Linked DNA regions of Homo sapiens: regions 1, 2 and 4 are each linked to region 3. The links come from fine-mapping of genetic effects on gene expression. A gene starts in region 3. Each other region holds a variant in brackets. All regions are shown on one strand. Distances are between the middles of the regions. Region 1 overlaps RUNDC3B (RUN domain containing 3B). Region 2 overlaps RUNDC3B (RUN domain containing 3B). Region 3 holds the start of RUNDC3B (RUN domain containing 3B). Region 4 overlaps ADAM22 (ADAM metallopeptidase domain 22).

The links.
Region 1: its variant is fine-mapped to the expression of RUNDC3B in CD4 T cells (BLUEPRINT, PIP 0.91).
Region 2: its variant is fine-mapped to the expression of RUNDC3B in blood mononuclear cells (TOPMed, PIP 0.98).
Region 4: its variant is fine-mapped to the expression of RUNDC3B in sun-exposed skin (GTEx, PIP 0.97).

Annotation. Positions count from the first base shown.
Region 1 is chr7:87,819,127-87,827,235 of GRCh38, reverse strand. All of the region lies in intron 10 of RUNDC3B (RUN domain containing 3B), which reads right to left. Among named protein-coding and RNA genes, the nearest start is that of SLC25A40, 53 kb to the left of the region's middle. RefSeq lists an enhancer at 7,804-8,109. The variant A/G (reference allele first, on the strand shown) is at 3,445.
Region 2 is chr7:87,717,143-87,725,251 of GRCh38, reverse strand. The region is part of intron 4 of RUNDC3B (RUN domain containing 3B); the gene reads right to left. Among named protein-coding and RNA genes, the nearest start is that of RUNDC3B, 93 kb to the right of the region's middle. The variant T/C (reference allele first, on the strand shown) is at 4,476.
Region 3 is chr7:87,624,077-87,632,185 of GRCh38, reverse strand. RUNDC3B (RUN domain containing 3B) reads right to left here and starts at 3,788. Exons shown (of 11, transcript NM_001134405.2): 1 at 3,241-3,788. The coding sequence starts at 3,362. LOC124901834 (small nucleolar RNA U13) reads right to left here and starts at 8,029; the gene lies at 7,928-8,029. It also overlaps a transcript of ABCB1 not described here. RefSeq lists silencers at 3,544-3,593, 3,644-3,873 and an enhancer at 3,739-4,033.
Region 4 is chr7:88,147,436-88,155,544 of GRCh38, reverse strand. ADAM22 (ADAM metallopeptidase domain 22) reads right to left here. Exons shown (of 32, transcript NM_001324418.2): 18 at 6,488-6,568; 19 at 4,514-4,564; 20 at 4,225-4,288; 21 at 2,219-2,324. All of the region lies in intron 2 of LOC105375386 (a long non-coding RNA gene), which reads left to right. Among named protein-coding and RNA genes, the nearest start is that of SRI-AS1, 65 kb to the left of the region's middle. The variant A/T (reference allele first, on the strand shown) is at 3,364.

The sequences.
Region 1 (8,109 bases), 200 kb before region 3:
GATTACAGGCATGAGCCACCATGCCTGGCCCCTTGTTTGTATTTTTATTTGCCTGTTACATATTTGTCTATTCCTTTATATTTAGCCATTCAGAATAAATCATAATTTTGTTGTAATTTTATGTATATAGTTATATTTACTGTTTCTCTCCTTGGTATATGTTGTTTGCCATTTCATTAATTTCTTTTGATAGGCTCTCTGCTGTGACAAATTATTTTGCTTTGTTAAATTTGCTATGCTTCTCTTTCTAGATGACATATTTGCTTTAAAAAAATTATTTAGGAAGGTTTGTATTTTAGTTCTAGTTGTTACCTTTATACAACTAGACAAATCTAATGCCAACTTCATTCTTTTCTCCCTTTCTAGTTTGTTTCATCTTTTTGCCTGGAAGTCACCAGTATGTTTTCATTATTGTTACTATGTAATAATTTTAGTAGAATTTGTCTTGTAGGTGATTACTTCAGGCAAATTTTCTTTAGTACTTGGTTAGATCTTTCAATTTGTATATTATGTCTTCATTTACTTCCAAACGTTGTTCTTGAATGATAGATTTTGGTATTAGTTCTGTTCCACTATTTTATCTTCTCCAGTGACTCTATAAACATGTAAATTTGATATTCTTGCCTTTCTAATTCAACCACTTCCTAACTCATTTTACTTCTTTCTTTATCTCATTTTCATTCTCTTGGTTGTTTTCCCATTTTTCTTCAGTGTTTTAGATTAAGTTTTCTTTCAAATCCATTCTTCTTTAGATACCTTGTATTAGTCCATTTTCACGCTGCTGATAAGGCATACTTGATACTTGGAAATGTATGAAATAAAGAGGTTTAATGGATTCACACTTCACGTGACTGGGGAAGCCTCATGATCATGGTGGAAGGTGAAAGGCACATCTCACATGGCAGCAGACAAGAGAAGAGAGCTTATGCAGGGAAACTCCCCTTTTGAAAACCATCAGATTTCGTGAGACTCATTCACTATCATGAGAACAGCACACTAAAGATCTGCCCCCGTAATTAAATCACCTCCCACCAGGTTCCTCCCATGACGTGGGAATTGTGAGAGTTACAATTCAAGATAAGATTTCGGTGGGGACAGCCAAACCATATCATTCTTCCCCTGGCCCCTCCCAAGTCTCATGTCCTAACATTTCAAAACTAATCATGCCTTCCCAACAGTCCCTCAAAGTCTTAACTCATTTCAGCATCAATTCAAAAGTCCACAGTCCAATGTCATCTGAGACAAGGCAAGTTTCTTCTACCTATGAGCCTATAAATCAAAAGCAAGTTAGTTACTTCCTAGATACAATGAGGGTACAGGAACTGGGTAGATACAGCTGTTCCAAACTGGAGAAATTGGCCAAAACAAAGGGGCTACATACCCCAAGAAAGTCCAGAATCCAGCAGGGCAGACAAATCTTAAGGTTCCAAAATGATCTCCTTTGACTCCCTGTCTCACATCCAGGTCATGCTGATGCAAGGGATGGATTCCCATGGTCTTGGGCAGCTCCACCCCTGTGGTTTTGCAGAGTACAGCCTCGCTTCCGGCTGCCTTCACAGGCTGGTGCTAAGTGTCTGTGGCTTTTCTGGGTGGATGATGCAAGATGTCAGTGGATCTACAATTCTGGGATCTGGAGGACAGTGGTCCTTTTCTCACAGCTCCACTAGGTGGTGCCCCAGTAGGGACTCTGTGTGGGGGTTCTGACCCCACATTTCCCTTCTGCACTGCCCTGGTAGAAGTTCTTCATGAGGGCCCCACCCCTGCAGCAAACTTCTGCCTGGGCATCCAGGTATTTCCCTACATCTTCTGAAATCTAGGCAGAGGTTCCCAAACCCCAATTCTTGACTTGTGTGCACTTGCAGGCTCAACACCACGTGGAAGCTGCCAAGGCTTGGGGCTTAGACATTTCTCCCATTGTCTTGGGGATTAACATTTGGCTCCTTGTTACTTATGCAAATCTCTGCTGGCTTGAGTTTCTCCTCAGAAAATGGTATTTTCTTTTTCTTTCTTTTTTTTTGAGATGGAGTCTCGCTCTGTCACCCAGGCTGGAGTGTGGTGTGATTTCGGCTCACTGCAAGCTCCACCTCCCAGGTTCACGCCTTTCTTCTGCCTCAGCCTCCCAAGTGGCTGGGACTACAGGCACCCGCCACCATGCCCAGCTAATTTTTTTTTGTATTTTTAGTAGTGACAGGGTTTCACCATGTGCAGGAGGTATTTTCTTTTCTATCACATTGTCAGGCTGCAAATTTTCTGAACTTTTATGCTCTCCTTCCCTTATAAATTGAATGCCTTTAACAGCACCCAATCACTCTTGAATGCTTTGTTGCTTAGAAATTTCTTCCACCAGATACCCTAAATCATCTCTTTCAAGTTCAAAGTTCCACAAGTCTCTATGGCAGGGGCAAAATGCTGCCAGTCTCTTTGCTAAAATATAACAAGAGTCACCTTTGCTCCAGTTCCCAACAAGTTCTTCATCTCCATCTGAGACCACCTCATCCTGGATTTCATTGTCCATATCATTATCAGCATTTTGGTCAAAGATATTCAACAAGTCTCTAGGAAGTTCCAAACTTTCCCACATTTTCCTGTCTTCTTCTGAGCTCTCCAAACTGTTCCAACCTCTGCCTGTTAACCCAGTTCCAAAGTCCCTTCCACATGTTTGGGTATCTTTTCAGCAGTGCCCCACTCTACTGGTACCAATTTACTATATTAGTCCACTTTCACACTGCTGATAAGACGTACCCAAGACTAGGCAATTTGTGAAAAAAAGAGGTTTAATGGACTCACAGTTCCATGTGACTGGGGATGCCTCACAATCATGGTGGAAGGTGAAAGGCACATCTCACATGGTGGCAGACAAGAGAGCTTGTGCAGGGAAACTCCCCTTTTTAAAACCATCAGATCTTGTGAGACTCATTCACTATCATGAGAACAACCTGGGAAAGACTTGCCCCAATAATGCAATCACCTCCCACTGGGTTCCTCACATGACACGTCATTTCTTCTTCTTTATTAGACATTGATGTTCTTAGGTTTTGATTTCCAATTTGAAATGTTTCTGTCTTATGACTAATTGCTTGTTGGAGGATATTTAATAAAATTATATGATTTTATTTTATGAAAGTATCAAATTATCACATGTACCCCCAAAATATGTATATCCATTATGTATCAATTTTAAAAGTTACTTTAATAGGATACAGAAATTATATGGCTTTATAACATCTTTTTTCCTGCTTCACTATTGTTTTCCTGGGTGGTGAAGTTCATTGGCTTAATTATTTTTCTCAATTTATGTGATTTTTTAAAATTAGTTTTGCAAGGTATAACGAACCCAAATGCCCATCAATCAACAAGTGGATACAGAAACTGGTATGTATGTATGTATGTAGGTGAGTGTGTATATATATATGTGTGTGTGTGTGTGTGTGTGTGTGTGTGTGT[A/G]TATATATGAAATGGAATACTACTCATTCATAAAAAGGAATGAATTAATGGCATTTACAGCAACCTGGATGAGATTAGAGACTATTATTCTAACTGAAGTAACTCAGGAATGGAAAACCAAACATCGTATTTTCTTACTCATAAGTGGCAGCTGAGCTATGAGGATGCAAAAGCATAAGAAAGAGACAAAGGAGTTTGGGGACTGAGAGGAAAGGGGTGGGAAGGGGATGTGGGATAAAAGACTACAGTTGGGTGCAGTGTATACTGCTCAGGTGATGGGTGCACCAAAATCTCATAAATCACCACTAAAGAACTTACTCATGTAACCAAACATCCCCTATTTCCCAATAACTTATGGAAATAAAAAAATTAAAAAAAATAAAAATAAAAAATAAAGATACTCAATTTTAAAGAAAGAAAAAAAATAGTTTTGCATAGACAGTGTGTTTGCTCCTCAGGATTTCTATGGAAAGGGCTATGTGACTTGGATGGTTTATGAAATTTTAAAAAGAGTACCTGTTGGGGTTCAATCAGGCTTGTGGAAAAAATATTACAGATAGTTATAGAAATGGACATAAATCATCTTGGAAGGCCAGAGGTTTGCATAACTTTGGTAATAGATCTGGCTAAAGGTGGCCTGATCCCTTTACCTTTAGTTAAACAAATTAAAATAGTAATAAAGAAAGGCAGAGTAGTTTAGCTAGCTAGCTTGTTTACACATGTGATCTTTTTTTTTAATTTTATTTTATTATTATTATACTTTAAGTTTTAGGGTACATGTGTAAAATGTGCAGGTTTGTTACATATGTATACATGTGCCATGTTGGTGTGCTGCACCAAATAACTCGTCATTTAGCATTAGGTATATCTCCTAATGCTATCCCTCCCCACTACCCCTACCCCACAACAGTCCCTGGAGTGTGATGTTCCCCTTCTTGTGTCCATGTGTTCTCATTGTTCAATTCCCACCTATGAGTGAGAACATGCAGTGTTTGGTTTTTTGTCCTTGCGATAGTTTGCTGAGAATGATGGTTTCCAGTTTCATCCATGTCCCTATAAAGGACATGAACTCTCAATTTTTTATGGCTGCATAGTATTCCATGGTGTATATGTGCCACATTTTCTTAATCCAGTCTATTGTTGTTGGACATTTGGCTTGGTTCCAAGTCTTTGCTATTGTGAATAGTGCCGCTATAAACATATGTGTGCATGTGTCTTTATAGCAGCATGATTTATAGTCCTTTGGGTATATACCCAGTAATGGGATGGATGGGTCAAATGGTATTTCTAGTTCTAGATCCCTGAGGAATAGCCACACTGACTTCCACAATGGTTGAACTAGTTTACAGTTCCACCAACAGTGTAAAAGTGTTCCTATTTTTCCACATCCTCTCCAGCACCTGTTGTTTCCTGACTTTTTAATGATCGCCATTCTAACTGGTGTGAGACGGTATCTCATTGTGGTTTTGACTTGCATTTCTCTGATGGCCAGTGATGATGAGCATTTTTTCATGTGTTTTTTGGCTGCATAAATGTCTTCTTTTGAGAAGTGTCTGTTCATGTCCTTCGCCCACTTTTTGATGGGGTTGTTTTTTTCTTGTAAATTTGTTTGAGTTCATTGTAGATTCTGGATATTAGTCCTTTGTCAGATGAGTAGGTTGCGGAAATTTTCTCCCATTTTGTAGGTTGCCTGTTCACTCTGATGGTAGTTTCTTTTGCTGTGCAGAAGCTCTTTAGTTTAATTAGATCCCATTTGTCAATTTTGGCTTTTGTTGCCATTGCTTTTGGTGTTTTAGACATGAAGTCCTTGCCCATGCCTATGTCCTGAATGGTATTGCCTAGGTTTTCTTCTAGGGTTTTTATGGTTTCAGGTCTAACATGTAAGTCTTTAATCCATCTTGAATTAATTTTTGTATAAGGTGTAAGGAAGGGATCCAGTTTCAGCTTTCTACATATGGCTAGCCAGTTTTCCCAGCACCATTTATTAAATAGGGAATCCTTTCCCCATTGCTGGTTTTTGTCAGGTTTGTCAAAGATCAGATGGTTGTAGATATGCGGCATTATTTCTGAGGGTTCTGTTCTGTTCCATTGATCTATATCTCTGTTTTGGTACCAGTACCATGCTGTTTTGGTTACTGTAGCATTGTAGTATAGTTTGAAGTCAGGTAGCGTGATGCCTCTGGCTTTGTTCTTTTGGCTTAGGATTGACTTGGCGATGCGGGCTCTTTTTTGATTCCACATGAACTTTAAAGTAGTTTTTTCCAATTCTGTGAAGAAAGTCATTGGTAGCTTGATGGGGGTGGCATTGAATCTGTAAATTACCTTGGGCAGTATGGCCATTTTCACAATATTGACTCTTCCTACCCATGAGCATGGAGTGTTCTTCCATTTGTTTGTATCCTCTTTTATTTCATTGAGCAGTGGTTTGTAGTTCTGCTTGAAAAGGTCCTTCACATCCCTTGTAAGTTGGATTCCTAAGTATTTTATTCTCTTTGAAGCAATTGTGAATGGGAGTTCACTCATGATTTCGCTCTCTGTTTGTCTGTTATTGGTGTATAAGAATGCTTGTGAGTTTTGTACATTGATTTTGTATCCTGAGACTTTGCTGAAGTTGCTTATCAGCTTAAGGAGATTTTGGGCTGAGACAATGGGGTTTTCTAGATATACAATCATGTCATCTGCAAACAGGGACAATTTGACTTCCTCTTTTCCTAATTGAATACCCTTTATTTCCTTCTCCTGCCTAATTGCCCTGGCCAGAACTTCCAACACTATGTTGAATAGGAGTGGTGAGAGAGGGCATCCCTGTCTTGTGCCAGTTTTCAAAGGGAATGCTTCCAGTTTTTGCCCATTCAGTATGATATTGGCTGTGGGTTTGTCATAGATAGCTCTTTATTATTTTGAGATATGTCCCATCAATACCTAATTTATTGAGAGTTTTTAGCATGAAGGGCTGTTGAATTTTGTCAAAGGCCTTTTCTGCATCTATTGAGATAATCATGTGGTTTTTGTCTTTGGTTCTGTTTATATGCTGGATTACATTTATTGATTTGCGTATGTTGAACCAGCCTTGCATCCCAGGGATGAAGCCCACTTGATCATGGTGGATAAGCTTTTTGATGTGCTGCTGGATTCGGTTTGCTAGTATTTTATTGAGGATTTTTGCATCAATGTTCATCAAGGATATTGGTCTAGAATTCTCTTTTTTGGTTGTGTCTCTGCCCGGCTTTGGTATCAGGATGATGCTGGCCTCATAAAATGAGTTAGGGAGGATTCTCTCTTTTTCTATTGATTGGAATAGTTTCAGAAGGAATGGTACCAGTTCCTCCTTGTACCTCTGGTAGAATTCAGCTGTGAATCCATCTGGTCCTGGACTCTTTTTGGTTGGTAAGCTATTGATTATTGTCACAATTTCAGATCCTGTTATTGGTCTATTCAGAGATTAAACTTCTTCCTGGTTTAGTCATGGGATGGTGTATGTGTCGAGGAATTTATCCATTTCTTCTAGATTTTCTAGTTTATTTGTGTAGAGGTGTTTGTAGTATTCTCTGATGGTAGTTTGTATTTCTGTGAGATCGGTGGTGATATCCCCTTTATCATTTTTTATTGCATCTATTTGATTCTTCTCTCTTTTCTTCTTTATTATTCTTGCTAGCGGTCTAACGATTTTGTTGATGTTTTCAAAAAACCAGTTCCTGGATTCATTAATTTTTTGAAGGGTTTTTTGTGTCTCTATTTCCTTCAGTTCCGCTCTGATTTTAGTTATTTCTTACCTTCTGCTAGCTTTTGAATGTGTTTGCTCTTGCTTTTCTAGTTCTTTTAATTGTGATGTTAGGGTGTCAATTTTGGATCTTTCCTGCTTTCTCTTGTGGGCATTTAGTGCTATAAATTTCCCTCTACACACTGCTTTGAATGTGTCCCAGAGATTCTGGTATGTTGGGTCTTTGTTCTCGTTGGTTTCAAAGAACATCTTTATTTCTGCCTTCATTTCGTTATGTACCCAGTAGTCACTCAGGAGCAGGTTGTTCAGTTTCCATGTAGTTGAGCGGTTTTGAGTGAGTTTCTTAGTCCTGAGTTCTAGTTTGATTGCACTGTGGTCTGAGAGACAGTTTGTTGTAGTTTCTGTTCTTTTACATTTGCTGAGGAGTGCTTTACTTCCAACTATGTGGTCAATTTTGGAATAGGTGTGGTGTGGTGCTGAAAAGAATGTATATTCTGTTGATTTGGGGTGGAGAGTTCTGTAGATGTCTATTAGGTCTGCTTGGTGCAGAGCTGAGTTCAATTCCTGGGTATCCTTGTTAACTTTCTGTCTCGTTGATCTGTCTAATGTTGATAGTGGGGTGTTAAAGTCTCCCATTATTATTGTGTGGGAGTCTAAGTCTCTTTGTAGGTCACTAAGGACTTGCTTTATGAATCTGGGTGCTCCTGTATTGGGTGCATATATATTTAGGATAGTTAGCTCTTCTTGTTGAATTGATCCCTTTACCATTATGTAATGGCCTTCTAAGACTAACCTTTGGTGTACCCTGGGTGCTTAAGTACCTTTTACTCAGGAAGCCCACAATGTCAATTACCCTCTAATGGTGTTGACTCAAGCTTTTGTTAATCTTACTGAATAATCAGTCGGACTAGCTGATCAGGGCCGAGTCACAACTGTTTACAGGA
Region 2 (8,109 bases), 93 kb before region 3:
GGGTGCGGGGAGTGGGGAGGGAAAGCATTAGGAGATATACCTAATGTAAATGACAAGTTAATGGGTGCAGCACACCAACATGCCACATGTATACATATGTAACAAACCTGCACGTTGTGCACATGTACCCTAGAACTTAAAGTATAATAAAAAACAATCACATTAAAATTAGTATAAATATTTACTTCAAGGGCTTATAAAATGCACAGTTCTGTTAAATAAAATGGCTTTGACTAGCAAGAGTCATAAGCCTTTGTTTTTTATTGATATGAAAATTAATTTATTATTGTAATATTAATAATTCAAATGAATAATTATTTCTTTTCTATATTTTCAAAAAATCACTCAAAAACAAAAGTAAATTATCACAAAAATATTACTCAATAATATGTATCAAGTAAAATTTGAAAATTCGAAGTAATCTAATGTTGAGTGTTAAATCATAATACACAAATACTATGAACTATTATACATGTAATTAAAATAATGATTATGAAGATCAGGTATAAAAATAGAAGTGTCCTACTGTAGTGAAATGAAAATGGCAGATTATTTTGATTACTATGACAAGAAACCTGGCTGTATGTATGGATTTTAGGATGCCAAAATGAAATTCATTCAAGGTGGTAGAATTTTTATTATTATTATTATTTTCTATTACAGATTCAGGAAGAAAATTTTTTAACTAATGAAATTTCATTTAAATCACAAGTGATTATTTTTTTCACTGTGAAATTGAGATTTATCTTGAAAATTCTGGTTTGTAAAACTAAATATTAGTCATTTAAATATACAGAATATTGAAATAAACTTCCATCTTTAATAATCTAAATATATTTTAGACTTAGCCTTAAATTTAGAAACAATCCAAAATATTGAAATAATATCCTGAAATGTTTTTCTATAAAATACACAACTATCCCTGCTTTTAGCATAGCATTATCCTGGTCTTATAACCTGCTTCCCTGAAATCTAGCAAAGAGTTCTTGGTATCCCCACGGCAGGTGACATGGTTTCAGGGGACTCAGAGAGACAGGGTCTCACTCAGTCACCTAGGCTGGAGTAAAATGGTGTGATCAAGGCTCACTGTAGCCTTGACCTTCCAATCTCAAGCAATCCTCCCACTTCAGCCTCTTGAGTAGCTGAGAGTAGAGGCAGGCACTACCACACCCACGTGGTTTTTAAATTTTTTTTTACAGATGGGATCCCACTATGTTGCCCAGGCTGGTCTCCAACTCCTGGGCTCAAATGGTTCTCCTGCTTCAGCCTCCCAAAGTGCTGGAATTACAGGCGTGAGCCACCATGCCTGGCCTTGAATTTAATGTTTTACTTTTATTATGATGTGTACGATTAAATGTTGGCAAAGACGCTTTATCATATTTGGACATTTTTCCTATATTCCAATTTCACTTTTTTTTTAAATATTGGCTGATTTTTGTCAAATATTTTCAGCTCTTAACTATGTGTTTATAACATAACTGATTAATTTGGGTTAACAAGGCACCTGAAACAGGAAATATTTTTATATGAAATGCACAATCCTAGTCTTGTATTTATATCAGCTAAACCTTAGTTGAATATGGTGAATTACATTATTTAAACTCTTTTACCTTCAATTCAGTGTAATTTTACTCATTTTTAATAATTAAACTAATAACTAAAATGTATTTATACAGCATATGTATTATCTTTGTCAACCTGTGACATTAGCCTAATGATGGATTGGTATTTTTCTGTAGGCTGTGAACATTTGCATTGCATTGGACATTTCTGTTCTTTGAAACTTAACTAAAATTCTCAAAAGAATCATAAGGTAGTTATAACTTATTTACTAATGGGCATTTCTAAACAACTTCCTGATGGAGGATATTGTTATTACTGTATGTCTCAGTATTCTACATTTTTAAAAATTAACTATTTTTTGAATATTACCCATTTTCTCTAAATTTCCAAATATTTTAGTCTTTATTCTATTGTGATTATATATCCCTTCTTCTGACAGACATTTCTTTATTTTGGTTGAATTATTCTGTACTTATTAGGTATTTGTCTATTTTATTTATCTATTCAGGTCACTTTTAATTTCAATAGTTAAAAATCCATTAATTTTACTGTTTAGCTGAATTAATTGCATTCTCCTACTTTTATGTTTCATATTTTTGTGCTTCATTTGTTTCAATCTTTTATTTTTCTTGTTAAAAGGAATCCATTATTATTCACATTATCATTGACAACTGTGAGAATCTGCAGAAAAAAACAATATGGAACTACAACTTCACGTTCTTGAGAAAAGCTTGCAGTGTAAGATGCGTTTGTTTGTGGTGCCTGAGGAAGAGAGGTTGGTGAAATTGCACTTGGACTCAGTGAATCGGAAATAGTTTTAACTCTCCAGTGGAACACACTGTGAAGTTGTCAAGTCCCTTGATTTCTCAACGATACCAACTAGTTCAATAAGCAAAGAGAGTATGCTTGTGCCTACTTGTTGCCCAATGAAAGAATCAAATAATTTCACTGATTCCAGCAGCAGAAAAAGAGAGTTGGTAGTGCTGAGCTGCTGAAGGTTCATTACTGCTTAGCCTTGAGAATGGAGGCCCCACTTGGTACTCTTCATAAGAGATGCCCCAACTCGTCAAAGGAATTATGGTAATCTCCTTACTTTCTGTTGCACATTCTTCCCTCTGCTAATCTCAGTACACTCATACTAACTTTCTTGTCTGTTAAGTGATCTCACATGTTTTGAAACCAAGTTCAGATAAACTCACAAGTGGGTTAAGGGGCCAGAATAGTTTAAAAGAAATACAATTACTTCATTATCTCACTTACATGTGAACTTTAAAATGTTGACCTTATAAAAGTAGAGACCAGAATAGTGGTTACCAGAGGCTGGGGGGTAGGGGCATGGGAGGTGTTGATCAAAGGTACAAAATTTCAGTTAGGGAAGAGGAATAAGATTTTGAGATCTACTGTACAGAATGGTGACAATAGTTAATAATAATATATTGTATATTTCAAAATTACTGAAAAAGTAGATTTTAAATGTCCTCACTACAAAAAATGATAAGTATAAGAGGTGATAGATATGTTACTTAGCTTGATATAATCATTAAATGATGAATATATATCAAAACATCAAGTACAATTACTAATCAAGTAATTTAAAAAAAAAATTAAAGGAAAGACAGGCAGAAGGAATTATTATTGCTGTGTTGATGAAACAGAATGAACAAAAGATAAATTTTGTTTCCGGAATTTAAAAATGAGAGTTTCTTAATTTAAAAAATGTGATAATGTAAGACAAGACTTGGAAAGGCAAATAAAGGTAACATTTTACAGAAATAATAAAAAATGCAACGCTATAAAATAACTAATAATATCCCATGAAATACACAGAAAATATTCCAAAAGTTCAAGCAGAACTCAAAGAAACAGATGAGATCAGAGAGAGAGAGAGACAGAGACAGAGAGAGAGAGAGAGAGAAAGAGAATGTTAGAATAGGAGCATAACAGTGAGAAATAAGATCTAATTATTCATGTTATATTTAACTGCTTGCTCAATCTTAGAAAGTGCAATAAAAAATTTCAGAAATGCTAACCTAAATTCTGCAAAAATCTTCCTAACTAGACTTTAATATTTGTTTAAAAGTGTGTTTGTTTTGAGCTTGAAGGTATATAGTCCAAATGTAGTCCTCATGCTTTAGCTGGGTTAGTTCATTAGCCATTTCAGGGTGATCATATTATTTATTTGAATTTAGTTTGGTTCATCTATTTCTGTTTGAATTTTATTTATGGTACCTTTGCCATAATTATTGATTATTTTTGTTCTCTCACACTCTCTCATACGTGAAATATTTACATGGTTCCAATTATCAGAAGCATACCATAATGTATATTCAGAGAACTGACATGTTACCCCCTTCATTCTATTATTTTCACTATGTTCCCATCCACCTCTGCTTTCTGGCTTAGTATTCCCACTTTTGATTTTAGAGGAGCCACCAGAATGTTTTATTATCTCCTCCCATTTTTAAACACAACATAGAGTATAGTTTTTTTATACTTTTATTTTACCTAAAAATAGCCTGCTACATATTATAATTATATATACAATTATAATATAATCATACTCTATTAACTTAAAATTTTCTTTTTTTACAGTTACATAGTACTCTGTGTCTGCATACATTTCTGATTTAGTCAATCTCCTTTGTTTTGACATTTAGCTAATTTTAACTATAATATTTTAAATTATACATTTAATTGGACATTTAGCTAATTTTAAACTATAATATTTTAAATAGTTAAAATAGCTAATTTTAACTATTTAAAATATTATAGTTAAAAATTAGCTAAATGTCCAAACACGAGGGCTCACGCCTGTAATCCCAGCACTTTGGGAGGCCAAGGCAGGTGGATCATGAGGTTAGGAGATCGAGACCATCCTGACTGACATGGTGAAACCCTGTCTCTACTAAAAA[T/C]ACAAAAAATTAGCAGGGCGTGGTGGCACGCGTCTGTAGTCCCAGCTACTCAGGAGGCTGAGTCAGGAGAATCATTTGAACCCAGGAGGTGGAGGCTGCAGTGAGCCAGAGCTCACCACTGCACTCTGGCCTGGGTGACAGAGTGAGACTCTGTCTAAAAAAAAGAAAAGAAAAAAAAAAAGAAAATTATAATTATTGCATACACACACACACACACACACACACACACACACATATATCCTATCTTCTGCTTAAATTTGTGATATCCTATCTTTTGCTTAGATTTGTGGAAGTGAAATTGCTTAGCCGTAAGTTACTATGTAGATTTTTTGGATAAAACCAAAAATCCTTCTTTAGGAATGTGCATTTCCTCAGAAGTTCATGGGAGTGCATTTTCCACATATCCTCACCAAAGAGTGCTGTAACTCCTCCATCAGCCTGTCTGTCTCTCTCTCTCATCTTTCTATCTAAACTTGGCTAAAATGACATAAAAGAAATAATATCTCAGTTTATATTGATAATTCCCTTATAATAAGAAAAGTTAAATAAATGTTCATATGTCTAAGAGCTTTTGACATATTCTTGTGAGTTGTCAGTTTACATCTCTGCCCTTATGTTTCTATCAAATTTTTAGTCTTTTCCTCCCAATTTGTATTAATTAAAAAAGTCTTTTATTGTTAAAATAATGTTGCAAATATTTTCTCCCAGTTTTTCAATTGTATTTTGATGTTTCTATATGGTGTTTTTGCTTTGCAAAGTTTTTCTTTCTCTTTTTTTTTTTTTTTTGGATGTAGTCAAATGTTCCACTAATTTTTTTCATTACCTCTGAAATTTTATTCAGACTTAGAAGAATTTTACCTACATAGGGTTATATAGAAATTCATCTCTGTTTTATCTCATCCTGAAATGTTTTGATTTCTTTAAAAAAGTAAATACTACATTTATTTTAATTATTATTTTATATAATGTGAGAAGGGATTTAATTATGTCTTTTTCAAAATGGCAAACTGATTGATTGATTGATCCCAGAGCTATGCATTACAAATCTCCTCATCACCTCAGTGTTTTAAGATTCTACCTTTATCATAAACTAAAGTTTATTTTTTACTTGCATTTATTTCTATTATATAACTACTTCTTTATCCTATTTCACTGTATGTCTGCATGCACCAATGCACAGTTTTAATTGTAAGGTTTTTATATAGTATGTTTAGTATCGGGTAAAGCTAATTTCTTCCCCTATACTACAGCTTTCTTTTTAGTATTTCCAAGTTAATTTTGTATATTTACTTGTGTATTTTTGTACATTTTGTATACTTTTATATGTTTATATTTCTTTTGTATATTTTTTATATTTATTTTGTATGTTTATTTTTACATGTAATTTCAGTATCAACTTGTCTAATTATGTAAAGAAACTTATTAACATAGAGATTGCAGCCAAATTATAAATTAACTTATAGGGAGCTAAGCTGTATTCTATAAAGTTTAAGCACCTCACACAAAAGTAAAAGACTTCTTCCCATTTTAATAATTTTAATTTTATATTTTTCAGGCCTTTTAAATTTTTTTCATGTAGATTTTACACATTTCTTCTTACACTTATCTCTTAGTATTTTATAGTTATTGTTGAATATTGATTTTATGTGTTATTATGTTACCTGTGTAACTATGTTACCTGTGTTACCTGTGTTATGTTACCTGTGTAACTATGTTACATGTGTTACTTGTGTATATGTATTAGATATGCTATTTTAATGTTTACTGTACTGTTGAATTGTTTTATTTTAATTTAGTTTTATTACTGAATCTCTACGGTTTTCTAGTTACAAAACCTTATCATCTACAAATATAAATAGCTTTCCTTTTTGTTTCTGATTCTTATGTCTCTAAATGATTCATTTTGTCTAACTGAATTGGCTAACCTCTACTATTAAGTTGAACATTAGTAAGAAGAGTGCAATACATTCTTTAAAATCTTATTGGAAATACAAGTAGTGTTTCTGAATTAAGTAAAATACTGATTCTAGGACTAAGATTATATAAAATTCCCATATCATGTTAAGAAAGTAAACATCAATTAACAATTTTGTACTTTTTTTCATCTCTCAGGAATAAATCATACATTTTGTAAAGGACTTTCCATCTTCTGTAGAGGAAAAATAGCTGGTTTTTACTTTTAGATGTATGAATATGGTGTGCAGAAAGAGTTAACATATAGCAGACCTGATTTCTATCCTTCGAAAGGCCTGATTAAAAGATTAGGCTTGGCTGATGCTGAGAACTTAGATTTTGGAAGGATTACCATCACTCTGATGGGTAAGAATGGCTCACTGTGCCTAAACTGCTTGTACAAAAAATGTAGTTTATGCTAACCTTTTTCTTTCCTTCTAGGAGTCTGGAATTTTGATAGGTGCTAGGCAGAAGGTGCCTCCTGACTATCCCCTAATAGAAACCCTAGGCACTAAATCCCTAATGAGCTTCCCTGGTGGACAGCATTTCATGTATGTTGTCCAAAGTTGTTGCTGAGGGAATTAAGCACAGCCCATATGATTCCACAGGGAAAGGACTCCTAGAAACTTTCATACTTGTTTTTCACTGGACATTGCCGCATATGCCTTTTCCCTTTACTTATATGCTTTGCATCCTTTTACTGTAATATATGATAGCCATGAATAAGACTATGAGTCCTCCTAGCAAATCATCAAACCAGAAGATTCATATGGTTTTTATATCAATGAATTTCCTAATATTGTATCAATATCATATTCCCAGAATAAATCACACTTGATCAAAATGTATCAGTTTCTTAATGATGTGTTATATTGTTACTAATATTTTTACATTTCAATCAATATTAATAACTGATATTTGTCTATAATTTTCTTTTCTAACTGTATTAGGTTTAGGTATAAATGTCATACTTACTTTACAAAAAGTATTAGATTTTCCTTAATTTTTTGAAATTTTCTTTTTTATAAGGTGCAAAAATTTTCAAAATCATTGGGACTATCCAGGCTTTGAAATTTTGATACAAGTCTTCCTTGAAATCATCTGGGCTTAATGATTGATTTTGAGGAAGTGTCTTGATAAATTTTTCTTTTCCTGATAGAGAAATTAGCTTATTTAAATTTTTTACATATAGTAGGGCCTATTTGGGCAAATTATATTTCTGTAGGAAATTATCATTATATCTTTCAAATATATAACAGAGAGATTGTAGGATTTTTTAAATGCATCATATGTCATGTCAATGGTTACTTCCTCCTTGTCCTTTTATTATACATATACCTCAGTTAAGGTAGCTAGTAATTGGTCTCTCTTGAAAATTTTTTACCAAAAAATATTATTTTTATTTAGTAATTATGTGTTTCTCAATTTAGATAAATTGATAAAGCAAATATTGTTTATTTTTTGCTTTATTGTTCCTTTATTTTTTCTGTTTGTTTTTCTTATCTTGTTTAACATGAAAATTTCATTCATTTATAATTTGTATTTTTATTAATAAAAGGGTTTAGGGCTATAAAACTTTTTCTGGCTACATTCTTGAATGTATTACAGGTGTCCTGATATAGAATACCTCCATTATCCATGATTTTTATTAAAAAACACTTTTGGATTGTATTTTACCTTT
Region 3 (8,109 bases):
AAGGAAAAACATTACTGTGAAAGTATAAGTGGATACACTAGAATGATATATGCTGGTGACTTTTTTTTTTTTTGGTTTTGTAAATGGTTCAATTTTTTCCAGAACATCAGCAGAGAATTACAAAATCAAAGGCACAGTCCAAAATATTTTTGTTTATAGAGAAAAATGCACATACGTAATTTAGCTATTATAAACATTTATCTTATCATTATTACCCTGCTCATATTTGGAAAAATTCAAAACTAAATATAAACATTTTTTGCTTGGAGGCTATTATTAATTTTAAGCCTATAATTGAAGGTTAACAATGATCTAGTCCAATATTATTTTACAGACAACAAAAATGAACAAATGGAAAGGTTGCATGGCTTGTAAAAGTGCACACTAGTTAATGATAAAGTCAACCTAGAACCCAGTTATATTTCCACCAGATCAACTTCTTTCCAACTTAAATATCAAATCATCTCTGATTTGAGATATAAAAATAAAGAGGCCGGGCGCAAGGTGGCTCACGCCTGTAATCCCAGCACTTTGGGAGGCCGAGGCGGGCGGATCACGAGGTCAGCAGATCGAGACCATCCTGGCTAATACGGTGAAACCCCGTCTCTACTAAACAAAACACAAAAAATTAGCCGGGCGTGGTGGCGGGCGCCTGTAGTCCCAGCTACTCAGGAGGCTGAGGCAGGAGAATGGCGTGAACCCGGGAGGCGGAGCTTGCAGTGAGCCGAGATCGCGCCACTGCTCTCCAGCCTGGGAGACAGAGCGAGACTCCGTCTCAAAAATAAATAAATAAAAAATTAAAAAAAGAATTCATAAGAGACATGAGTGAAATACCCAGGGTTTGGTGACTCTGGAAAGTAAACTAGCAATAAATGCATAAATACTGCTTTATTCATTTTTCTTAATTTGTCATGGGGATACTTAAAATGTACAAATGGCCTATAGTGACTTTCTTCCAAAAAGTAAAAGTCATTCAGACAAAGCCTATCATATAGACCCCATTACTACACATGGATAATTTACATGCACCATCAACTATTTGGATCTGAAAAACAGCCTTAATATTATCCATATAAATAACAATACAAATGAAATCCAGAGCAGAAACCACAACTTATTTTAGCTATTACACTAAATCTATGTGTAAACTGTAACTAAAGTTAGCACATATTCATTTCACAGTAGAAAATAATAATTATGTAAATTACAATCATGAAAATACAACTAATACAGAGAGCTGTCCCCAGAAATCAGTGTGACGTTCCTAAAATTTCTTAAAGATAATTTAAAATTTAGTTTAAATAAGGTTGAAATACAAATCCTTTTCTTTTCAACTGTCTCTGATAAGGGCACACATGATCATTACATGACCTAAAGCCAGCCAAGACAAAAATGGAGAAGCAAAAGGAACAGTACCCATCACTGAAATTATTCATTCAATAAATATTTTTTGAGTGTTAGATGCTATACTGAGAATTTGAAAGAAAAAAAAAAAAAGACTAAGCAAAAAGCAGATAGAATCACTGCCCTTGTGAAGTTTAACAAAAGCTGATAGAGCTTTTATTAAATATGTTACCCCCCAAGAAGCACTGTATATGTTGAAACTACCCTTATTTTTAAAGCAATTTTTGATGTCTGTATATTATGGTTAAGAAAATCAGCCTTGCTTATGGTTCCATTTACCTACTTTAAAGATATTTACCTATATTTTAAAACACCTAACAGCCTATTTGTCTCAAAAAGTTACATCCTAGACAGCACAAACGGCAAATTAAACGGATACCATATTACTTTACCATTTACAACTCAAAGTGCTGTAATAATTACATTATACAAATACAGTCAATGAAGAAGGTCTTCTTGCTAGATAAACATTTGTAATAATTCAAGTATTTTTTAAAAAGTCACTGTGAGTTATTGCATTTAAGTCCTGGAATAATTATCTGTATTCCACTTAAGATGCTAGACACATTTTTACACAAGAAAAATAACGGAAAAATACAGAGAAATTGCAAAGGAAGAAAAAGTTTCATCATCATCTGATTCTTAAGAGGAATATCACTAGGTGATGATTAGGAGTCTGATGGAGGAAAGTAATTTTAAAACAACTTAATGGCTCAGAGAAGTTCCTAAGAAATTGATGCTTAGGGTTTCAATTTTTCTTAATACTCAGATATAAGACTTAAAGAAAATATATCAGCATGTTAAAAACCAGTTATCTCTGAATACTAGGCTTACTATAAATAGTTCTTTTTTTTTTTTTTTGACGAAGTCTCCCCCTGTGGTCCCGGCTGGAGTGCAATGACGTTATCTCAGCTCATTGCAACCGCCTCCCAGGTTCAATCGATTCTCCTGCCTCACCCTCCCGAGTAGCTGGGATTACAGGAGCCCGCCACCACGCCCGGCTAATTTTTTGTATTTTTAGTAGAGACGAGGTTTCACTATGTTGGCCAGGCTGGTCTCGAACTCCGACCTCGTGATCCGCCCGCCTCAGCCTCCCAAAGTGCTAGGATTACAGGTGTAAGCCACCGCGCCCGGCCCAATAGTAATTATTCTTTTATTGTTTCTATATTTTTCTGAAGGAAATACTACATTTACAGTTATAAAGCATTAAGGAAAGGCAGGCCTTAAAATAAATCATTGACATAAAGACTAGGTATCCTCCACAGTCCCACTCTTAATAACAACTGCAGAACCAGCACTAGCACTGTAGCTGAAAAGTGGATAGTACACACACGCTCACATACACAATGGCTGGCATGTAGTAGGCACTCAACTAACGTGTGAAATGAAATGGCTGAAGATAATGTAAACAAGCCAAAACAACGAAATGCACTCTGATTTGGGGGCAACACAGTAAACAATCACAGTAACTACCACTTTATCCAAAGCTCGCTGACAGCTGAATGGGCATTAAATGAAAGAGCTCTTCTTCCTTGCCCTCCTCTTTCACTCTGACGCTAGATTGCACATTCAAAACAAATCCTCCTCCAGCCCCGCCCCAAGCTCTACCCTCCAGTACCTTCAGCACTGGAACTGACACAAAGTCCAGGGCTGCGACGGTGTCCAGACCCGGGCCCCTGTCCAAGGAGCTGCGCGCTCACAGATTTGGCTGGCGCAACATAGGCGGGGGCACTGGGCGGCAGCCCATCATGCCCGGGACCCCCAAGGACCCGCGCGGAAGCCCAGAGCTCTCAGCCCCGGCGGGAGGCTGGTTCCCCTCGCCCTGCGCTGCCGTACCTGCACACGGTGATCAGGTTCCTCCTCTCCACCGCAGCATTGCGGGCGCTCAGGCTTTTCTTGCCGCCTCCGCCGCCACCGCCGCGGATCCCGCTCAGGCCCCCCAGGCTCCGGGAGGCCATGGCGGGCTTACCCCCGTGCCCCTTTTGTCTCGTGCCACCCCGCACGCCCCCCACACCTGCTTAAGGGGGTTCTCGCTCGGTCCGCAACCGTGGGGGCGCGGGAAGGATGTAGGAAAGGAGCCTGGAGGGAGGAAGGGTGTGGAAGACAGCAGGGACTCGCACCCGGGGACTGACGGCTCGCCCTTGGCACCCGAGCTCCACACACACACACACACACACACACACACACACACACACACGCACGCACGCACCACCTCCGCCCTCGGCGCGCCGCCGACTGCCGGGCTGCGCCTGCGGGTCGGCGTCAGGCGCTCTCCTCCTTCCCGAGGGACCTCAGCAGACGGCGCGCGCGCGAGCCCGTCGGCCCCTCACGCCCAACCACCCACACTCCGCAGCCACTCGTGCCCCAGCCCGGGAGGCAGCGGCAAGGCCCCCGGCCTCGCGTGCGCAGCCCCACCCTCTCTGCGCCTATCAAATCAACGCTACCCCCGCCGGATCCAATCGCGGCACCAGAGGGGCGGGGCCGGCCGCGCGGACCTTTTAAAGCAGCGGGCTCAAGCCCCGCCCCGACGCGTGGGCTGCTGTCAAGGACGCTGGGCTCGCTTTCGCAGCCCGCTAGCTGCCGCCAGTAGCCACACAGGCTAGCCGCGGGGATTGTGGGATGCGGGGCCCCACAGCGCCAGGGGCCTATTGCCCCCCCCTTGCCTGTAGCCAAGCTTTAACGGCTGATACCTATTTGCGTGGCTGCCGTAGCTTCAGTGCCTGCCTAGAAAGCAGCGCGCCGGCTCCCACACCCGACCTTGGGCCTAAGTACTAAGAAGGGAGGAGGGTTCCTTTTGTCCTGACGCCCTCCCAGGGGCTAATAAACAGCAACACAATGGCCCGAGGGGGGAATTGCTCGTAGAATCTCCTTCTTGGCGCGTCTAGTGCCGACATTTCTTGCCCCTCCACACCATGTCGCTCCCACCTCAGCCTCCAGCGCAGCCCGCACCCGGGACTGACGGCCCGCCTAAGGAGGAGCGTGGTGCCAGTGTAGAGTCTTTTCGCGTCCTGGGCCGTGACTCCGGAATCGGGAGTCCGGGTCTGGGAATAGTAAGCCCAGGAACGACGCGGCCTCGGTCCAGCTGGGCTGCTCCCTCAGAGTCCTGGAACGCCCTCCTCGACGCGCGTGTTCGGAAGCGCCCCCTTCCTAGAGCTTCTCACTACCCACCGTTTTACCTGCAGGAGGGTCCCAGCTTGGGTCAGGTCCTCTGACACTCACCTACGCCTGCTGTTCACCTCCCTTTGCACCAATATGCCCAGATTTTAGAGTGCAATCCTAAATGACTTACTCTCCCTATGGGACCTAGCACAGTGCTGTACATAGAACAGGTTCTCAATAAATGTTTCTCGAATTTAATTTGAAGTCACATTTGACATAATTTTTACTGAAATTTCACGGCTTCAGTGGCTCCAAAATCCATGTATCTTTCACCTCTACTTTTGAAGTTTCTGTCAAAGAATGTCAGAGAATATATAGTTTTGTGTGGCTATCTCTATTTTTCTTATATATTATCCCTGTTAATGCAGGGCATACTGTTACTCTTGAATGTTTTAACAACGCACGTTTGTGTAATAAAGTTGTAAATTCCTAATTTCTGAGGTTTTTAAAGTTTAAAAATCTCTATTTAAAATAGTCAAAAAATCATCCTTTTCAGCTACCATGTCTAATTTTATTCTACTATTCTGTTTAGTAGAATAAAAATATATGGGCTGGGCGCGGTGGCTGACGCCTGTAATCCCAGCACTTTGGGAGGCTGAGGCGGGCGGATCACGAGGTCAGGAGTTCGAGACCAGCCTGACCAACATAGTGAAACCCCATCTCTACTAAAAATACAAAAATTAGCCGGGTGTGGTGGCACGCGCCTGTAGTGGCAGCTACTCGGTAGGCTGAGGCAGGAGAATCGTTTGAACCCGGGAGGCGGAGGTTGCAGTGAGCGGAGACTGCGCCAGTGCACTCCAGCCTGGGCGACAGAGTGAGACTCCATCTCTCTCTCTCTCTCTCTCTCTGACATATATATGACATATATATGACATATATATGACACATATATATGACACATATATATGACACATATATATGACACATATATATGACACATATATATGACACATATATATGACACATATATATGACACATATATATGACACATATATATGACACATATATATGACACATATATATGACACATATATATGACACATATATATGACACATATATATGACACATATATATGACACATATATGACACATATATATGACACATATATATGACACATATATGACACATATATATGACACATATATATGACACATATATGACACATATATATGACACATATATGACACATACATATGACACATATATATGACACATACATATGACACATATATATGACACATACATATGACACATATATATGACACATATATATGACACATATACGACACATATATATGACACATATACGACACATATATATGACACATATATGACACATATATATGACACATATATGACACATATATATGACATATATATGACACATATATATGACATATATATGACACATATATATGACATATATATGACACATATATATGACAATATATATGACACATATATATGACAATATATATGACACATATATATGACAATATATATGACACATATATATGACAATATATATATATATATATATATGTCTCAGCCTGGGCGACAGAATGAGACTCCATCTCTCTCTCTCTCTCTCTCTCTATATATATATATATGTACATATACATATATATGTACATATATATATATATATTCCTCTCTCTCTAGCCATACGTATATAGTGTCAGTCTTAACTAATGTGCTATGATAAATATTCATTCATACATTAAAATTTTAAGAAAACAATTTAGTCAGACTTTACACTTTATCTTTCAAGTTAATAAAAGCAGGCGAAATTTCTATATATGGATGTTTGTGACTAGTCAGTGCACTTCTTCCAGAACATTACGTGTCTGCTCTCCTGTGACACGGAGGCTTATAAAGAGTCTTCTTTTCCTAGGAGCTACAACTTAACTTGTCTCTTCTTGCTAGTTCAACAGTTTGGATTCAGAAGTAGCCATCAGGAAACAGATGCACTGGTTATGCAGGCAGTCTCAGCAAAATATTTGCGCTGGCAATGACAAATACTACTCAAATTGATGTTGTTATTATTTAACCACAGATAAAACTGCAGAAAGAAAAGAGTGGAAAACCATCAGTTATCAATAAAATTTCTAAAAACCGATGCTTGGGTGTGTCGTGAGTGAGGGAGAGAACACACATGCCTCTGAAGCATTTATCAAGAAGATAAAAGTGAGTGGTCATGACAGAACGAGAAAAGTGAGATGTTAATATCCTCAAAATTGGCTTCCTAGCCTCCAGTACATGTTCATGTTATTTTCACTGTGAACTATGACTGAAAACTTAGTAAAACTCCATCTTAAATGATGAGGTAATCGTGTTATTTTTCTTTTTTCTTTTTTTTTTTTGAGACGCAGTCTCGCTCAGTCGCACAGGCTGGAGTGCAGTGGCAGGATCTCCGCTTACTGCAAGTTCCGCCACCCGGGTTCATGCCGTTCTCCTGCCTCAGCCTCCCGAGTCGCTGGGACTACAGGCGCCTGCCACCACGCCCGGCTAATTTTTTTGTATTTTTAGTAGAGACGGGGTTTCACCGTGTTAGCCAGGATGGTCTCGATCTCCTGACCTCGTGATCCGCCCTTCTCGGCCTCCCAGAGTGCTGGGATTACAGGCGTGAGCCGCCGCGCCCAGCCATAACGTTATTTTTCAAATGTTACTCTTAGAAGGATTTAGTTGACATGTTAGTACTTGCTTACCAAGACTTTGCCATAAACAAGCTGTGTTTTTCTTTTTTGTTTTGTTTTGTTTTGCATGTATGGAGTGTCATTACACTGCCACATGGGGGCCTTATTTGATAAGGCTTTTCTCATTTATCCTAAGTAGTATGTCCTGGGTCTCTTTCTCCCTCTAGATTACTAATCTGGATATTGTCAATCAATTTATTCAGTACACAGCATAATACTATTATAGAACTCCATGAGTCCACGTTACTTTTTGGACTTCTTTTGGCACCTATTTCAATTATTTTTATTTATTTAAGCATTGCACAAAGGTATTCAAAGATTTTACAAAGAGTCACAGTAAAAATTATGAAAACAGTAGATACCTAAATTAACTTATAGGAATTCTGTAGAACCGAATGGGCAGAACATACCCATTCACCGTTTTCCCAACTTCCTTCTTCTCATCGAAACAGACAAAATTACAAGTGCAACATATAAAATGTCCTCAAATATAAAATACTATAAAATGTATATATAAAGTGCTATAAACCAGAGAGATCACCAAACCATAGTTTATTCTAGTCTCAGAGAAGTGGACTTTTTAAATATGCCATAAACCCAGCATCTGTACAGAAGAAACTAGAAACATTGAAGATGTAAGTTTTTTTAATTTTTATTTACTTTGACGTCAGATGGGTAATATGCTGACATCATAACAAGGATTGGGTGAGGCACGTCTCACATGTGTGTGAAAGCTCAATCATCACGCTTATGAACCACAAATGGATAGATATAAATTTTTTCAAATCCACAAATCAAGTATCATCATAAGCAAAGTCAAAAGTAAATGAGACCGAGAAAACATTTT
Region 4 (8,109 bases), 520 kb before region 3:
TTCTTTTTTTTTTTTTTTTCTTAGAGTCAGGGTCTTACTCTGTTGTCCAAGTTGGAGTGTAGTGGTGTAATCATGGCTCACTGCAGCCTCAAACTCCTGATTCCAGTGGTCCTCCTGCCTCAGCCTCCCAGGTAGCTGGGACTACAGGTGTATGCTACCAGACCCAACTAACTTTTAAATTTTTCACAGAGACAGGGTCTCACTATGTTGCCCAGGCTGGCCTTGAATTCCTGACCCCAAGCAACCTCCCTCCTCACCCTCCCAAAGCACTGGGATTATAAGCATGAGATGCTGTGCCCAGACAATTTTTTTTTTAATTGGTAATTGAATGATATTTGGATGAGCATTCTTTTGGAATACAGATGTTTTTTTCAACCTGTTGCCCTAGAATTAAAGAAGAAATTATAGGCTGCATTTATTTTACAGACTGCCAACTACAAAGGCTCATTATCCTTTCTTCAATATATTTCAGTACTTCCCCAACTATTACATATGATTCTAACTTAACTTATAAAATATCTTTACTGTTGTTAATACTATCTTACATATTATTTATATCCAACACATTTTAATTATTAGTAGAGATAACAATAAACATATTTTTAAAATATCTTGTGAAGAGTAATTAGTAAGTCAGCAAGATTATATACAAAAGTATCAGACTTTACCACATGGAGAAAAAAGAAAAATTAGAACCTGTATTTTTCACCAACATAGAAAAGAATGTATTACTTTATTCTTTAAAAATGCTTTTTAAAATTATGTTATCATTTTACTGTATCTATCATAAACAAAAATGCTTTCTCAACAGAGAAGAGATATTCATTCAAAACTTTTTTGAATGTCATTTATGTATATGAACCTATGTAATCAGGATATATAAAGACAATTAGATATGATCTTTATTCACAAGAAAATTATACTCTAAATAAGAAGATAAATCACACACATAAACAACTTATAAAACAAAATTACGGACAAATAAGTACAAAGGGCTGTGGAAGTTCAAAGAAGAGAGAGATAATTTATTTCTAGAGTAAATCATAAAGAAATTTATATATAGAAAGTGTTTCCCAAGCTGGGCTTTGAAGAATAGGTATATTTTTGGCTGATGATGGTATGAGTTAAAGGGTGCTTCTGGAGGATTATAGAGCATAAATGTAGGCATGGAGGTAGGGACATATTCGGAATGGTAAGGTTTGCTAGATTTGGAAGAATATAAATGAAATGACAAAAAGTGTAGGTTGGGGACAATTGTTGAATAGGTGCAGTGCCAAGCTAAGGTTCCATTTAATTTGTTAACAAGACTATGACATTCAGCAAAATGGTGAAGAGAGAGTTCTGAAATCATACTCTCCAAATTCTAATTCTGCTTATTATTACATCCCATATACATGACTTCGGACAAATTAACTGTGTCTCAGTTTCCTCCTCCATAAAATGGGAGGACTGCCATGAAGATTAAATGGCATAGCTTATGTAAAGTGTGATACAGTGCTTAGCACACAGTGTTCACTCAATCAGTGCTGGGTACTGTTCTCACTATTAATTAGTCATGTGGAACCAGTGAACTTTCAACAAAGAATTGACAGTAAAAAAGACCCAAAAGATTATTCTGATAGTAGTACACTAGGGAATGCTGGCACAGAAAACTGTTAAAAGAATTTTGTAATAGTTGAAGGATTAATATAGGTCTTAGTTCAGGTAATGGTAATAGGAACGTAAGTGAATACATGAATTAAAGACAAATGGTGGCAAAGCAAAGGGAAGAATGGATGTAATTTAGCATTTGGACAATGTGTAGAGGGAAGGATCACTTTAAGGCTTCTAGACAGAAGGACAGTGAAATATTGAGACCTTTGGCAAAAAGGGGGTGGTTTGGGAAAGTTAGAGCCAGTTAATTCAATTCAACAGCACTCAGTGCATATTCTGGTGGCTTTAAGTTCTTTTGCCTTTGAGATGCTAAAAGGTGTCTTCTAGGTAAGAAAATCCTGAGGTGGGGGCAAGTATGACCTGGGCCTTAGGAGAGAGGTGAGCACACATGTTCAAGATTTGGAAGCCCTCTGCACAGGTGATGCTGGAACACTGGGAAGAGATGAGGTTAAGGAGGCAAGAGCACACTTTGTGTGATGCAGAAAGCAGAAACTTCCTAGTCACTCAAAAAAGTACACTTGTAATTGACCAAGGGATGAATTCTGGGCTGACGTCTCCACCTCACCGTTTGTTGCACTGTATCCATGTGTCTTTGTCTTTCCCACAGTTACCCTTCTCCGTCCCTTCAATATTCAGTTTCTCATAGCAATATTTGTCTGATGCTGTCACCTCTAAGGCAGAAAAAAATTTTCTATCAGTGAGGGAAGTACGATTTGGCTGCTCAAAAGCTTTGCAGAAAAGAAAAATTGTAATATAAGGACTCTTCATCACTACAGTGTTATCAATTCCAAAAATGTTACCAACGAACGGTTCACAGTTTTACCATGGATCATATATATCCATGACTCAGATAGGTTTTCATTAAAGCTCATTTGAAATTTAGTAAACAAATGTATTTAGTTCTCTGTTGGGACTCAGGCTGTAGGCTACAAAAACAAACACTCCTTAGAATTTGGCCAATAATTCGGGCAGATCATGAAGTCAGGAGATCGAGACCACCCTGGCCAACATGGTGAAACCCCGTCTCTACTAAAATACAAAAAAAATTAGCTGGGTGTGGTGGTGTGCACCTGTAGTCCCAGCTACTTGGGAGGCTGAGGCAGGGAAATCGCTTGAACCCGGGAGGCAGAGGGTGCAGTGAGCTGAGATCACATCACTGCACTCCAGCCTGGCAACAAAGCAAGACTCCATCTCAACAACAACAACAACAACAACAAAAGAATTTGGCCAATAATTAGGGAAGGCAATAACAAATATTTCCTTGAATATATACTCTATTCTTTAATCTCAGTGCTAAATATAATACATGAATTTCTCATTCAGCATATTTTGTTAATCATAAAGACAAGTTTATTATAATAGTTATATCCTGTAATTAGATTCAAGAAACAGTGGTACAATTTCTACCTTGCTCCCCACTTCTTAGCAGCTATCAAAAGCAATTTTACTTTGCTTTAAGACAAGCTTGAATTCATGCTAAATCTCTGGAAGTCAAATAACATTTTAAGGTATATCAGTATCTTTTTCAGGCTTTTATCTTTTCTAAAACCAGGGACAGTTGATAGAGTTATCTAAGAATTAGGACAAAATGCAAACTAATCAAAGGATAATTGTTGGTATATTTTTAAAAAAAACAATAGTTATGTCGGTAGTTATGTTTCCTACTTCTTGTTGTCAGCTACTATTTTTGCTCAAGTGGATAAAACAAAA[A/T]TGATATCTTTTTTCGGAGTACAAACCTGCCTGACTAAATGTTTTCCCATCCCAATGTTTCCAATTGCTTAAAGAGAGCATACACTTCCCCTCCTAAAAGGATTGTGGCACCTACTTATAACTATTAAGAATTATCATTATTTTTATAGCCTTTTTCCTACTACAAATTGTCTCCTGAAACAGTTTAAAACAAAAACTGCTTCCAAAAGTTTGGGCTAGTAGTACTTCTAGGAAACAATACATTACTCAACATTTAAATAAACATTTAAATAGAGTATAATTTAAATCTAAATATCATATATTTTCCTTTGAAAATCTGACAGACTTTAAAGGCTAAACATTAACATTTCTTTCTGATACAGCAAAGCCACTTTAGCAGAAGTGCGTAACTAGGAAAGCCAACTAGAGTTTAAGAAAAATATCCAAGGAGGAAAAAAATGACTCTAGATAAAATGCTGCTGTTCTAAGTTAAGGACGTCCTGTCCAGGGTCCACGTCCATCCCATATGGTTGTGAAGCTTTAGCTTCAGGGCACTCAGCTGAGAAGAGTATACATGGAGCTGAAATCCAGGTTTGCTCTATTCTCCAAGCTGTGCACCCTGGCATGGGCTCCATCTGCCTGGCAGCAAAGGCACTTTCTGTCTCGTCCACAGGCACTGCCAACTAGCCAAGATGTGTGGGGCTGCTTCTCAAAGGGGTGCCTTACTCTAATTTCCAGAAACATGCCCCTGCTAAGACCTGTGGTAGCTTTGAGAATCCCCCAGTCATAAAGTAGTCAAAAATTTACTTCCAGCACACACGTCCTTGAGAAGTCCGCCTGACATCATGCTTTAACAATGATCAAGCCACACTATTTACTTACTTTGCCCCCAAATGTATTTGCATTGTCTATCTCTGGTTTTGCATCTTCCTCCAAAGCAAATTCCCTAAAACGGAAAAGCAAATACCCATTAGCGATGCAATATCTGCTTATGTCAGATAACTGAAAAAGAAACTATGATTGGGAAAAATAATAGATGAATAGTAGAGAGGCCTTTTATCTTCAGAATTGATTACAAACATTTAAATTGATCTTCCTATTTTGATAAGATTTCAGTATTCCTTTCATGCTGGTACATGTGAAAAACATAGGTAAAAATGAAGTGACCTACCTGAACACCATCACATGAATATCCATCCATTTTATGAATATTAGGGGCACACTAGGAAAAAGAGAACAACTATGAATGAAATGCAGTGCAAAATATAAGGCTGAGCTAAACCCTTTAATGTTTTCACTTTTAAAAACATATTTGTTAATATGGCTAGTCCCTTATACCATCTATAAAACAAAATGCAAAGGAGGTCAAGAGCAAGTGGATGTCCTTGAAGTCTGGGTATTTGGTAAAAAATAAATTAAAAAAATAAAAGAGAAAGCAAGAGGAAAAACAATGGGTACACTTGCCCCTGAAAATATGAATCTACCAGAGGCAAAAACAGTTGATTACATAGCAGCAAATAAAAAGAACTGACTACCATAGACTCAATTAATGATACATTTAAAAGTATCTTGATTCATACAGATATACTATTTTTCAGAGCAAGAAAGAGAAGGGGACAATAAACAAAGAGTAAGTCTGCATAAATGGAGCAATAACTAGTTTCCTTTCTTTTGCCATGAGAAGAAACATAGCCCTTATACTAAAAATAATGACTTTCAAGCCAAAGTCCACTTTAAGAATGTCAGAAAAGGGCACACTTTATAATCCTTTTTTCCTTGCAGCAATTATGAAAAATTATAAGGCAATATTGAATGAGTATAAACAGACAGCAAAGCATGCAATTATGTTGCCTCTTTGTCTTCTGATGATATCATGTGCCATTTTGCAAAAACGGAATACCAAGAGAGGAAACTGGCCAACAGAGATGAAAGTGCAGCAAAGAAAAGTGATGACACCAGAAGTGAAATGCAAATTGAACTTGTAAATGGAGTTACAGAAAAAAATTGCTGACTGTGGGAATGTCAATATTGCTGTTCAAGAGCCTCTAGACATGCAACCAGAGGAACTTGCTGAAGGAGGACTTAATGACATCGGTGAATAAGGTGATTGTGACATATAGGTGACGATGTCCCAGAGGGGGTAACGCCAGCAAGAAACTTCACATTCACATCTTCACATCTCTCAGGGATATCTCATGACATTGAAAGCACAAAGAATAAAATGTTGTAAAATGTTGAAAGCTGATCCAAACTTAGAAAAGGGTGTGACAGTTCAACAAGGCATAGAAAATATGCTCACTCTATATCATAAAGCTTATAAGAAGGCAAGCTCTATTCAAACTACTCCTAAGGTTTTTACAAAGAAATAAAATCCTTTAATTCTCAATGTTTCTCTTTTAATGTACAGTATGCTAAATAAATACTATTCTTTCACCTTCCTATCCATTTAAAACCAACAGTAAGAGAGTTTTTAATAATCTGACAGCATTTTTTGAGGACTGCAAAACAAGTGCAGTATTTTCCTTTGATTATTAAAATGACTTTGCATAGTCTCAGCTTGCATGGTCATTTTTATGGTTTGGCACTACCCTTCAAAGTGAGGACCGTCTGTATGTACAGTGACCATTTTGAAATCTGTGAACTCCCACCAAAGTTTATTCAATTTCTCTAGCTTGTCTATCTATAACTAAGTGCTATAAAATTCAAGAGCAGCTATTGATGGCTGAGGCGATGCAAGCTATCATAGATAAGAGTCAAGAGAAAGAAAAGGGTCCTCTCTAAGAATCCAGTGTGTTTGTGAGTCCCTGCCTCCACTGACTTCTTGTTCAATCAGCTGAAGAGAGTTTATTTGTTTCTTCCTTTACTAAGTAGATGAAAAGAAAATGCCTTGTACTACCTACTTAATACAAAAACAAAATAGTTAAGGCATGCACGCAGTCTGAGGTTAGTTCAACGTTAAGACAAAATTATGTTCAAAATCTGCTCAAGCTTCAATCACTGAAACTTAAATTCCTAAAAAAAATGGAGAAATGATGTGAAAGAGACACGAGCATCTTGTTCATTTACATTTCTCTTTGAGGGTCAGTGCACTAAAGATACCCCCACTTTTTCCCATAAGTTTTAGAGCAGTTATTTTGTAAATTACCTGGCTTGAATTTCCTGAGCACGTTTCACGAATATCACAATCATTTACTGCTTCTCGGCACACAGTGCCCATAGGCTGAAACTAAAATGAACAAAAATCAACGTGTGAAACTGTAGGGAGAAAAAAAAATCTTACAATATCATCTAAAAAAAACAAAATGAAAATTGTTTGGCTAGAAATACCTTAAACTACTGTAAGATGGTAATCTGTCAAAACCACAGTTACTGAAAAAAATTTTATTTTAATAGTTTTAAGAAACAGTTTCTTGTGTATGATGTAATTTCCATAGTCATTACACATAAGCCTTATATTATACTGCTAAATTCCACAAGACAGGCCAGTTAGTCCAGGTTCTAGTAATTTTTCTGTACTAATAGCTTTTGAATTTACCCTTTACTCTTCATTCTCACCGACACTTTTATCACATTATCCTTTTCTGCCTTATCTACCAAGAATCAAAAAATTACATTTTGGGTTGAACCACAAAAATTAGATTTTCTGACAAAGCTATTTCCTCCCATGTTTCTTCTACCCTTCTTCTCCCCTGCCTCATTTTTACATGGATTTAGATCTTGGTCTTTTATTATTTTCTAGTGTTTCTATTATTTAAGTCTTCATATAGGCATTTTTGTTTTTCTGTTTTCCATCATCTCAAATACTTCTTGCAAGTGTGAGAGTTATACAAATAAATGTTTAACTTCATTAGGTTAAAAATGTGAATTGCAGGAGTACTCATTAAAATGAAACAGACCTGAGATATATAGTTAAAGTACTTCCCCTTCCCTTCTCAATCCTTCTCTTTTTCTCTATCCAAAATGTTAGCATTCAGGGCTGTATCCTTACATGCTTTGTGTCTGCTCACACAAAGGCACATGTTATTCTGCTTCCCTCACTTTCTAGATAAGCTTTATCTTCTCTAGCTGCTCAGAACTCTACAGGCATTTGAGTCTCCTGCTGTTCCTAGAACATGCACTGCCCACTATAAACTCCAATCTGGATTTCAACAAGTATTTTTTTTTAGAAGACCCAAACAAAATATGTATTCATTCATCCATTCATCAAATATTTAATAACGTGCCAAGCACTGTTCTAACTACTGGGAACTCAATGGAGAACAAAACACAAGAACCCTGCTCATCAGGAACTTGCATCTTAATGTGGGTTAAAAATAAGGAAATAAGAAAATTTAATTTCACGTTTCTCTTCTTCCTTGGGACTAAGACAAGCCAACATTTTAGAATATCTAGGGTAGAAATATGAGCAAATTTGGGGTAGTTTAGAGGAGTGCATAATGTTCAAGAAGTTCCAGGAAACTTCTAAAAGAAAGAATAGGGAGGGAGGATTTGCACTAAGTGCTAGGATACAGCAGTATATAAATCAACCAAAATCCTTGCCAATAAATACCCTTGTATTATAATGGGAGAAGAAAAGTAATAAACAAGTAAACAAGCACTCTTTAACAGCAGTGGTCTGCAAACTGTGGCCCATGGGTCAAACTTCACTGATTGCCTATCTTTATAAATAAAGTTTTATTGGAACACAGCTATGCCCATTTGTTTCTGTATTTTCAAAGGCTGCTTTCAAAGGCAGAGCTGAGCTGCAACAGAAACTTTATGATCACA